3 linked regions of the Homo sapiens genome follow. The protein of the gene in region 3 interacts with the protein of the main gene of each other region in a pairwise test. Each region holds a gene or a part of one and is shown on either strand. Other genes may lie near its edges. The genes, in order: KRTAP10-6, TMEM132D and ZNF302.

Region 1 (3,373 bases), on a different chromosome or scaffold from region 3:
AGGAGGGGTGAGGCTGCTGGCTGGAGCTAGGCCCCGGGTGGGCTACCCCAGTCCTGGGGGGCAGCCATGAGCTGGGGAGGGTGAATGTGGCTCAGGGGCCCAGAGTGCTGCCAGGGTCCACTTTGTCCCGAAACTCCTGGCCTTGGTTCCAGAGGCAGCTTTCCTAAGATGGGCCGGGGGGCCATGTGCTGGGGTTGGGGGCCCACGGGGCTAAGAGGGAGACTGGCCTTCAGGGTTCACAGAGGCCAGCACCAGAAGGCATTGCTTCCTGCCTCATCCCATGCCCCTCGGGGGTCCACAGACAGGATGAAAAGTCGACAGAGACAGAGGGGTGGAGCCAGGCCTGCTGGGGGTCAGGACTCTCCCTGCAGTCAGGGGTGGCATCACTTCCCACCTCACCCTGTGCCCCCCGGGGGTCCACAGACAGGACAGAGGTTGGTGTGAGACAGAGGCGGCTTTATTAGAACTAGAGGGGGTGCTGCCCAGGGTGGAACCAGGCCTGCTGGGGGTTAGTTCTGCAGAACTTGGGTCTGGGGGAGTAGCTGGGGTCTCTCATGCAGCCAGCATCTGGGAAGGACAGGGGGAGCATCCTGGTCCCTAAGACAAAGAGCCTGCCCCATCTTCTGAGGGTGTCAAAGCCAGAGAGGGCAGAGCTTGCTGGGGCAGCTGGGAGGTCAGCCCCTGGTGGGAAGGGACTCCGGATCACATCCAGGGCTGTCAGCAGCTGGACTTCTGGCCAGAGCAGAGGCTGTAGCAGGCAGGGCGGGAGCACATGGGGCGGCAGAGGAGGGAAACACAGGAGGCCGTGCGGCAGCAGCTGGGCTGGCAGGAGGAGGCAGAGGCACCACAGGAGGGGACGGGCACGCAGCAGGTGGACTTGCACACAGGGTGGCAGAGGAGGGACACGGAGGAGGAGGATCTGCAGCAGGAGGCGGTGCAGCAAGCCGGCTGGCAGCTAGACTGCTGGCAGCATGATGTGGAAGCCCCAGAGCAGACGGGCACACAGCAGGCGTGCTGGCAGGGGGAGGAGGTGCAGCAAGCTGGCTGGCAGCTAGACTGCTGGCAGCATGAAGAGGAATCCTCAGAGCAGGTGGGCACACAGCACACAGGCACGCAGCAGACGGGCACGCAGCAGGCCTGCTGGCAGGGGGAGGAGGTGCAGCAAGTTGGCTGGCAGCTAGACTGCTGGCAGCATGAGGGTGTGCAGGAGCTGGTGCAGCCTGATTGGCAGGGGCTGGGCTCACAGACCGCCTGGCAGCAGGGGCTGGACACACAGCTCACACAGCTAGACTGCTGGCAGCACGAAGAGGAAATCCCAGAGCAGACAGGCTTGCAGCAGACGGGCACACAGCAGGCCTGCTGGCAGGGGGAGGAGGTGCAGCAAGCTGACTGGCAGCTAGACTGCTGGCAGCATGAAGAATCCCCACAGCAGACGGACACACAGCACACAGGCTTGCAGCAGACAGTCTTGCAGCAGACGGGCACGCAGCAGGCCTGCTGGCAGGGGGAGGAGGCACAGCAAGCCAGCTGGCAGCTAGACTGCTGGCAGCACGAGGGCGTGCAGGAGCTGGTGCAGCCTGATTGGCAGGGGCTGGGCTCACAGGTCACTGGGCAGCAGGGGCTGGACACACGGCTCACTGGGGTGCAGACCAGGCTCAGGCAGGGGGCCGGGGCGCAGCAGGGGGGCTCACAGCAGCTCTCTGGGCAGTCGTCCACCTGCCAGGAGTCGGAGCAAGAGTCACAGGAACCAGGAAGGCAGACGCGGCTGCCGTAGCTCAGGTCGCTGGAGCAGACGGACATGGTGGACGCGGCCATGCTGGGGTTGAACTGGTGGAGGGTGAGGGAGTGAGCCTGTGAGGTGCTGAGGCTCTCGGGCTTTTATTCCACCTGGCCTTGTTGTCCCCGGGCCCACAGCTTCCCCTTCCGTGTTGCCGAGAGCTGGAGTCTGCCGGGATTAGGGGTGTTTGTTCGCCCGTGATGTGGGCCAGCTCATAAATCTCCCATCACATCTGGGCTGTGTCCCATCCCATGTGGATCCCTGGCGGCAGGAATTGGGCGGGGCCTGGTCCCAGCTGGGTTCGGGGAGCTGGGAGAGCCACAGGTCGCGGCATCGTCCACCCCTGGCCCCAGCAGCCCCGGGACACAGAGTCCCTCTGCAGGAAGCCGGCCTCAGGAAGTGTCCTTGTGGTGAAAACCCCTCATCCAGCGTGGTCCTTCCCCCATCACCGGACACAGGACTGTGGCCATCTTCTGAGGGACAACCTGGGGCCCATGAGCCTTCATTGACCTGCCCTGGGCCATGGCATGGTGGGGGTGGGGGGCAGCTGTAACTGTGCCCAGACCTCTTGGCTTTGAGCTCTGGACGACTTCTCATCCCCACAGCCTCTTCACCTCCGGCCCTGTTTCGTGTCCACCTCGTCTTTGTGTTTTGGAGGCAGCAGGACCTGTGTGTTCCAGGGCAAGGACGGTGGGCTTGGCCCCTCCCTGCTTGGACAGCATGACAGCCTTCTGGGCTGTGGTTTTGGGTTCTGAACCTGCAGAGTAACCGTGCTGAGCAGCGGGCGGTCAGCAGCCCTCGTCCCCGCCTGGGGTGGCTCCTCTGTGTGCTCTGCTTCTCCGAGGCTGCCCGTCAGCCCCCACCCAGCCTCCTGCTGGGCCCATTTCCCAGCCCTGTCTTCCAAGCCCTGTGCCAGGCCTCTTAGTGTCACCACCTTAAAATTAAGGGACATCTGTCCAAAGAACCCGCACAGAAGACACAAAATGGGTCCATGAGAAGTTGATCTCACTGCAAACCCATTGCCAGTGTAAACGAAACATAAAATCCTAAGCCCCTCAACTGACTAAATGGATCCCATCTTGCCCACGGGGACCCCCGAAAAACTGCGTTCCTGGCCATGACAGGAAGGGAGGTCAGACACGCCTCGTTACACCCCCTCCCTTTAGGGTTTCGACACAACCACTACCCAGCACTAAAGTTAAAATAGAGACCGTAAGACCCACAGAGCAGACTCTGGCAATAAGATATCAAATTACAAACAGGACCTCAGGCCGCGCCAGGCAAGGGACAAGCCGCGTGCCCTACACTGAGAGGACGGACTCTGCTCTCACGCCACAGCTGCTGTTTTTCTACAGTGGCTAAACACGCACTGGCCCCGCGATGAGGATGAGCAAGGTTCAAACGACTGCAGCTCATCCACCAGCAGATGCCAACTGACCACGTTCCACAGCCATGACCACAGCTCTGACTGGGCAGGAGACTGACTTCAGGAACCTCCTCCTGATAAGGGACCCCCAACCATGGACTGGCTCCAGCCGGTTTACAGAGGCTGTGCACTGGAGTGCCTTTGTGTCCTGAGAAGACTTCTGAGGTTTA
Region 2 (4,379 bases), on a different chromosome or scaffold from region 3:
TGAGGCACTTTGGGGTATGTGTGTATGTGTGTGTGTCTGTGTGTTTACTTTCAATTAAAATCCTTTTCAATATAGTCCATACTTGATTGCAAGATGGGTGAGAACTTTCAAGTGATCAGAGAATCTTAGAGGGAGGTGATATGAACACATTGGGAAAAGAATGGCCCTGTCCCTGAATGTATAAATCACATCTGCATCATGAAATTCCATTTTATGCAATTTGCTAATAGGGGTGTTGATTTTTTTCTTGTTCTTTGACATATTGTGACTAATCCTGAATCATCTACCATGTGCTCAGACTCTGCTAATTGCTGTACAAAGTCTCCACACAGAACTGATTCACTTTTGAACTGTCTGGCTGACTTGCTTAAGTTCAATACACAAAATATGTCATATGCTAGGCTTATCGTAAACATTTTACGTGCTAATTTTTGGCCACCTAGTAAAGAGGCTTCCACATCACACAGGACCTCATTTAAGGACATGTTCAGTGTTCCCAGTTGAAAAAGTTCACAAGTATTAGGCTAAATACAATTCTCTTCAACACTGCTCAGTCTAATAAAGAAATCAGTAACAGACCTATGTACCTAAGTGAAAAAACACAATAGTGAGGTCCTATTTCCAAAGCTATTCTGTACCTTTCTTAATACAACCTTGTTATTGCAGCATAAACACAAAGAAGTCTGGACCTATTATAAAACCAAGTGAGAACCAACCCCCCCCGCCCCAAAAAAAAAATGCTGGGCTGTTGTTGCTGTGGATTTTGGTTTTTTTAACCTCACGTCTGCCTGAGTCAGGTTCACTGAATTCATCAACCTTTTCTTTGGTTTCCTGTGCACATTATAAATCCAGAAGGCTCTGATCCCAGGGATTGTTCTAACTCATAATTAGGAAACGTGAGCCCATTTCAACCACACTTCAAAGACAGGGAAGGAGGGGGAACGTAAATTCCTCTTTCTAAATCGAACCATCACAGAACTCGGCATTTCAACTGTCTTCATCTATTATCAGATCCAAAGCAACATAACCTCAGTGATTCTGGAAGAACTCAGAGAACAGACAATTCATGTAATTAAAAGACTTTGTGCGTGATAATTGGCTTTGAAGTTTCTGAGAGAGATCTCATCTCAAAAATCTTTGCAGAAAAATATGGGTACAGGGTTCTTGCAGCACGTATTAGAGACTGCTGAGACGCTTCACTCTCCTCCCAGTGTATCTATCTGCAGGAAAGGGGCACGGGTGGGGGAACCACACACAAGCAGCCCAGGTCAATCATGAGAAAGAATCTCCCGCACAAATCACACCATTTCTCTTCAAGGAAGAATGACTGTCCAGAGCTTCCAAACTTGCTCTTCCCATGACAGACAGGGATGCTGGCAGAAGAGAAGAGGAAACATTGAGGAATTCCTGCCTTGACACATGGCTTCAAGTCAGGGCTCCGCTGGGAAAATTCGGGTCACAACTTGTAGCTGAAACTCCACGTGCACCCTGCGGGGCCGCTGCTGCTCCCAGCACCCTACGGAAGGGTGAGCGCCAGACCCTGTGCCCAAACCTCACAGCGGCAGACCTGGAGAAACCCATCCCCCTTCTTCAGAGCCGCCCCCCAGGCTATATTTTTGGCAGCCTATAATACACAAAATAGTATTCCCATACAACAGGAGTGCTCCAAAATTATTTCCAAATAGGTCAGTGCCACCAGGGAAAGTCAATCCCAAATTCCAGAAATCTCCCTGGTCATCTCAATCCCCTCCTCCCCCGACAGCCGGCTCGGCCCTCCAGAGGCCACCTTTCCTCTCAAGGGTCCCCACGCCCTCTCCCTTTACAGAAAAGGCTTTCAGGAAACAGCCTTCCTTTCCTTTCGGCTCCTTAGTAGTCTCACCTAAGGCCTCCCACCCAAGTGCTCCAGGACAAGCACCTTCGGCCAAGGGGCGTCCGAGGAGCTTGGCTGCCGCACGAGCGCACGTTCACACGCGCGCACACACACATGCACACAAGCGCGCACACACACTTGCACACGAGCCCTCTCTCCCGGCCGCCCCCATCCTCCACACACTCCCACACACTCACTCCAGGCGAAGTTAGTCCCCGGGCCCTGGCGGCCGCGGCGTCCTCACCTTTGGAAAACAGGGCGGCCAGGCTGATGAGTACCGGCGACCAGTGGTGCCACAGCGTCCCCATCTCAGACGGGCACATCCTGGAGACCCGGAGCGCAGATCCTCCGCTCCCCGGCGCCGTCCAGGCGAACAAGAGACCGTCTCAGTCCCCTAGAGGCCCGCAGCGGGGCCGGTGGCGAGGGAGCGCCCGGCTAGGGGCCCGAGCAGCCCGGGCGCCCTGCTCCCTCTTCCCGCCAGTCCATGGCCAGGCCGGGAGGCGACGACCGCGCGGGCTCCTGAGTTGCTCTCCGGAGTCCAACACGCGCGCAGGCAAACCCCACCTCCCTCCTTCGACCCCAACAGAATTTTTTTTAAATTTTAATCCACAGGGGGTATTTCCTTTCCTGTTTACCCGAGCGAAGAGTGGCCCCCGGTGGCCCAAGGAGGGGCGCCTCCAGGCGCAGGGCTCCGGCGGCTCCAGCTGCTCCCGGGCTGGCTAGCGGGCGCTGGCGCAGGCGGCGCCGGGGTGGCGGGGCTGCGGAGCCCGGGACGCGGGCAGAGGCGGCTCGGAGCCCCCCGGGCGGGTGGCCGGGCTCGCTGGGCGGCCCGGGGCTCCCTGGCCCGCAGCCCCCATCCCAGGCCGGCCGCTGCGCCTCGGGGCTCGGGCGCGCGCGCGCTCCGGCACCCAAAGTTTGGCGGGTGCGGCTGCTCCCCGGCCGCCGCCTCGGCCCGCCCGGCCCCGGGCCCGGCTGGGGCTCGCGGGGCTCTACGCGCGCCGAGCGCACTGCAGGCTCCGGAGACGCGGGGCTCCCCCCTGCGCCCGGGGGAGGCGGGCCAGATGTGCGCGGAGGAGGGCCCGCCGGCTCGGGGACGCGGCCGAGCAACGCAGCTGCCTCCTGCCAGCAGGCGCGGGGGCTCCGCTCCGCAAGGACCGCATCCGGAACGGAACGGAGGCGATCGCCACGGTGCCCGGAGCCGGCTGGGGCTTTCGCCTTAAAAATTTGTCTGCTTTTAAAAAGCCCCACCCTTTCGGAGTGACAGCTGTGAGCCCCAATCCGCAAAGTAAATCCCACCTCCCCCTGGCCGCCCCACGCCCAGCCTCCCGGCCACCCTCCCTGCGAGCGCGGACGCGCGGTGGCGGCGGGCGAGGGCTCCCAGCGCGGGCGCACCCCGGGGACGGAGCCACCCACTCTCCCAACAGGTGTCCAGCTGGCCACCGGCCTCTCGTCGTCATCAAAACCTCAGGCCCAGGGGAGGTCCTCCAGCCCGGGGGCACCTGAGGCTCTTCGCCAGGGAGAGCGCAAGGATGGCTGGAGAAGGGCCCTCGCCCCGCCCTGCGCATCTCCCAGGGATCGCAGTGAGGAAGTCTCTGACACGCCACACTGAGGTCATGCTGGCCCCAAGCCCCTTCCCAGAGCGATCCCCCAAGTTAGTGTCCCTAGAAACATGTCGTGTGCTCCCCAGGGCTCACTGGGAAAGGAAATGGATCCATTAGGAGACAACATTGCTTTGAGAAGATAAAAGACATGATTCTCAACACCGCCCGGAATCTCCAACTAAGACATTCCCACACCAAGATCCCTAAGCACCGTCCTGTAATTTGTAGCCCAAGAACTGCTTTGCTCCACGAGAGCCTTTAAATTAACCCCATCAAAGCTCAGAGGGAAGAAAAGCATTCAGAATTTTTAAGGAATATTGTAAACCAACAAGCCCTGAATCTAATGAGGTGAATTCACCTCAGTAGATAAAAATGGGTCGTTATCATCTGACTGAGGGGGCAATGGACTTTTTTATCCTGTATGCCTGTAGTTGCAGAAATATACCAATGCTTTAAGAGTTTTTAGCTTTCAAAGTTTCAAGGAAGATCAAAAAAGCCACTGCTGTTCTACCGAAGATTGTTTTTCTGGGTTCATGTCCTTTGAGATGTGCTCTTGTCTTTTATTCTGTATCTACTTATCTGAATATATCTGTCTTTCTGTTTTTTCTTTTGTTTGTTTCTTAAACTTGTTGCCTTTTCTCTTTGTATTGCTCTCCTGTAAAATTCCTAAGAGTCGACGCTGCAAAGACCCTAAGAGATTGTCTCTTTCACTGTTTCTGAAGTTTGAACCAGCAGGAGAGTCACTGGAAAATTTGTTAGACCTGGGTTGCTGGGCCCACCCCAGAGCTATCTCGGCAGGTCAAGGTGGGACTTCCGATCTCCGTTCCTAAAAAGTTCCAGGTGATGCTGATGCTGCCGGCCTGCGGAACACGTGCTGGAACCACTGGTCCCCTTTCTCCTTCACCTGA
Region 3 (3,257 bases):
GTATACATGTAACTTGGATTTAAACCCAGGTAACAAGACTCCAAAGCTTAATGCTCTTCACACACACACATCTCGAAGCTCTTAAGGAGTATGGAGTGTTTCTTAAGTCCACAGAAGATGCTCAAGAAATGGTTAATAGGTAAGATTGAGGAAACAATATGTTGTCAGTGACACCATAACATTATTATTATATTCTGGACAAACAGTGTTAGTGTCCCCTAAGAACGTGTGAAAAATGCAAATTCAAATCAACTCATACAGAAACTCTAGGACTGAGGCTTAGCAATCTGTGCTTTAACACGTCCTTCCAGTGATTTCGACACAGCACTAGAGCTCAGAACTACTAGATTCCTTTATCCCATCCCTGTGTAATACACATGAGTAATGCTCAGTAAATGTTCTTGAAATGTATTTAATTAAGCCTACTGGATATGGACTCAATAATCCTCACCAAAATACTGCTATTCTTAGTATAAAGAGCAGGCCATTCTTCTCGAAGTTTGCTAGTCTCCCGCTAAAGGCTATACTAAGGCTAATCTTAGTGAAATTTTTTTTTGTCGCAAACAGTCACAGAGAAAGAGTTCATGATATACAAAATGATTTTATTAGATGCCAAATTTTTATTAACACCATTTTATTTCTTTTGCAGCTTTAATTTTTAACATTATAACATTTACTGGCTCCTCTGGGTGACTAAATATCTTCACATGCCCACTAGCTAAAAAGAATTTCTAAGTAGAACTCAACTGAAACTGCAAGCTACTGCTCTAAGAAATGCATACTTATGTTTATTTGCTCTCCTATATAATCCTGTTTACAAATAGCATAACTGCAAAGATTTATATGTAATTTCTAAATCCTTCAGGTTGCTCTACCATTCATCTTCTTATGTCTGGCAAGATAAACACTCTTAGTGAACACTTTGCTGCATCTCTTAAATGAGATTTGTCTCCAGTTTATTTCCTATAGAATAAGGGATGCACTTGGAACTGAAAAATTCCTTCAATTTCTAAAGTTTCCACATTCATACAACTTTTCTCCTGTAGGAGTTTGCAGGAGATTCCTATTGCCTATAGTCTTTCCCACATTTGCTACATGTACACAGATTTTTCCTAGTGTGAGTATACTTAGGTCAATTAAGGGATTAATACTGACAAAGGCTTTCCCACATTTATTGACTTCATATGATTTCTCTACAGTATAAACTCTAATAAAAAAATCTGCATCATTGCTAAAAGTCTCCCATGTTCACCACCTTCATACAACTTTTCCCCAGTATACATTTTTCTGATGTTAAATAAGGGAGGATCTATGAATGAAGTTTACCGTGATAAACACTGCTTCTCTTCTGTAAGATTTCTCACATGTATAGGGATTCATATGATCTAAAGGCTTTTCCACACTTACCACACTATTGGGTTTCTCTCCATTATGTACTCTTTGATGGGCAGTAAGATTCGAGCCTTTGCTAAAAGCTTTCCCACACTCACTACATTTATATGGCTTTTCTCCAGTATGAATTCTCTGATGTACAGTAAGGTTTGAACTACAGCTGAAGGTCTTCCCACATTTAATACATTCGTAAGGTTTCTCTCCAGTATGAATACTGTGATGTTGAAGCAGGGACGACCTATGACTAAAGGCTTTCCCACATATACTGCATTCGTAGGGTTTCAATCTAATGTGATTTCTCAAATGCATATTCAGTGATTCAAGCTGGTTGAAGGATTTCCTGCATTTCTAAACTTCAAACGGTTTTTCTTCAGTATGAATACTCTGATGTTGAACAAGAAATGAGAAGCTACTAAAGACCTTGAGACATTTGTTGCATTCATATTTTTTCTTCATACTGTGAATTCTTTGATGTTGAGTAAGGTGTGAGCTACAGCAGAAAGCTTTCCCACATTCTCTACATTCATAAGGCTTCTCTCCAGTATGGCTTTTCTGATGGTGAATGAGAGACGAACTATGAATGAAGGCCTTTCCACATATACGACACTCATAGCGTTTTTCTTGCGTATGAATTCTTAGATGCTGAATGAGAAGGGACACACGACTAAAAGACTTTCCACAGTTCATACATTCATACGGTTTCTCTCCCGTGTGAGTGCTCTGATGGTTAGTAAGTGATGAGCCATGGCTAAAGGCCTTCCCACATTCAATGCATTTGTAAGGTTTCTCTCCACTATGGCTTATCTGATGTCGTGTAAGGGATGAACCATGGCTAAAAGTCTTCCCACATTCACGACATTCATAGGGCTTCTCTCCTGTATGAATTCTCCAGTGGCGACTGAGGATTGACTGTTTGCCAAAGGCTTTCCCACATTCACTGCATGTATAGATTTTCTCTCTATTACAAGTCTGGGGAAGGGTAAGAGATTTGCTCTGGTTGAAGGCTGCCCCACTTTTATTAGAATTTAAAAGTTTCTTTCCACCATTTATTCTCTCACTTTTTATAACTGACTTTTTTGATAAATTCTTCTTTAATATATCATATTTGTGTGAATTCCCTTCAGCAGAATTGTTTTGTGGTTCAGAAAGAGTAGACTTTGAATGAAAGGTGCTTCTAAATGTGTCGCATTCTGTATATTCCAAATTCTTATTAGAATTTGAAAATTCATAACTTTGTTTTACAACTTTTTCCATTGTTACTGGTTGGGGTGAATCTTCATCATAAATATCCTTCTTTGTTGATAATTCCTTGTTTTCCCATCTTGATTCCCAATCTGAAATATATCAAGAAAGCAAAGCACTGCCTTTTTTTTTTTTTTTTTTTTTTTTTTTTTTTTTTTTTTTTTTTTTTTTTACTTCTTGAAAAAAGCTTCTACAGTGGAATTAGGAGAATTGGATAAGAAATGAAGCACCCAGAAAACACATAGTTCTGACAACTCAAATATTTCAGTGACTTCTGAACAATGCTCAAATAGAGCAGAGAATCCAAAGTTCACAGAAGCAGGAACAGAGTGTGATAAAGGAAATGGGTAAGCTGTACGAAATGGATAAAATAGTATGGAAAAAAGGAAAGTATCAGAAATAAGATGTGGAAGGCATTCAGGATTACAAATCATCATTTTGTGCCTATATTCATGTGGGAAAGGTTGCATTTTGTTTCATAGCCTTTTTTTCCAACCTTCCATTAATCTCAATTTGCTGCTGGATTATCAAGCTTAAAATACAGAATTGATACTACTATATTAAACAACTGCAGTAAAAACAAAGTAAATGCTCTTTATAGCTGACAAAGATATAGGCTTTCT

What was found.
Region 1: the proteins of ZNF302 (region 3) and KRTAP10-6 interact in binary tests that used the Homo sapiens proteins (3 or more experiments, as listed by UniProt).
Region 2: the proteins of ZNF302 (region 3) and TMEM132D interact in a two-hybrid assay, tested with the Homo sapiens proteins (one large-scale study listed by BioGRID).

Annotation. Positions count from the first base shown.
Region 1 is NC_000021.9:44,590,670-44,594,042, forward strand, and holds KRTAP10-6 (keratin-associated protein 10-6), read right to left. Parts: upstream 1,837-3,373; 5' UTR 1,816-1,836; coding exon 718-1,815; 3' UTR 599-717; downstream 1-598. UniProt on the Homo sapiens protein: In the hair cortex, hair keratin intermediate filaments are embedded in an interfilamentous matrix, consisting of hair keratin-associated proteins (KRTAP), which are essential for the formation of a rigid and resistant hair shaft through their extensive disulfide bond cross-linking with abundant cysteine residues of hair keratins.
Region 2 is NC_000012.12:129,901,147-129,905,525, forward strand, and holds the start of TMEM132D (transmembrane protein 132D precursor), read right to left. Parts: upstream 2,880-4,379; 5' UTR 2,194-2,879; coding exon 2,115-2,193; intron 1-2,114. UniProt on the Homo sapiens protein: Regulate neuronals morphology via inhibition of the WAVE regulatory complex (WCR), a complex that controls F-actin cytoskeletal dynamics.
Region 3 is NC_000019.10:34,683,721-34,686,977, reverse strand, and holds the end of ZNF302 (zinc finger protein 302), read right to left. Parts: intron 2,987-3,257; coding exon of another isoform or gene 2,805-2,986; exon of another isoform or gene 2,727-2,804; coding exon 1,741-2,726; 3' UTR 582-1,740; downstream 1-581. UniProt on the Homo sapiens protein: May be involved in transcriptional regulation.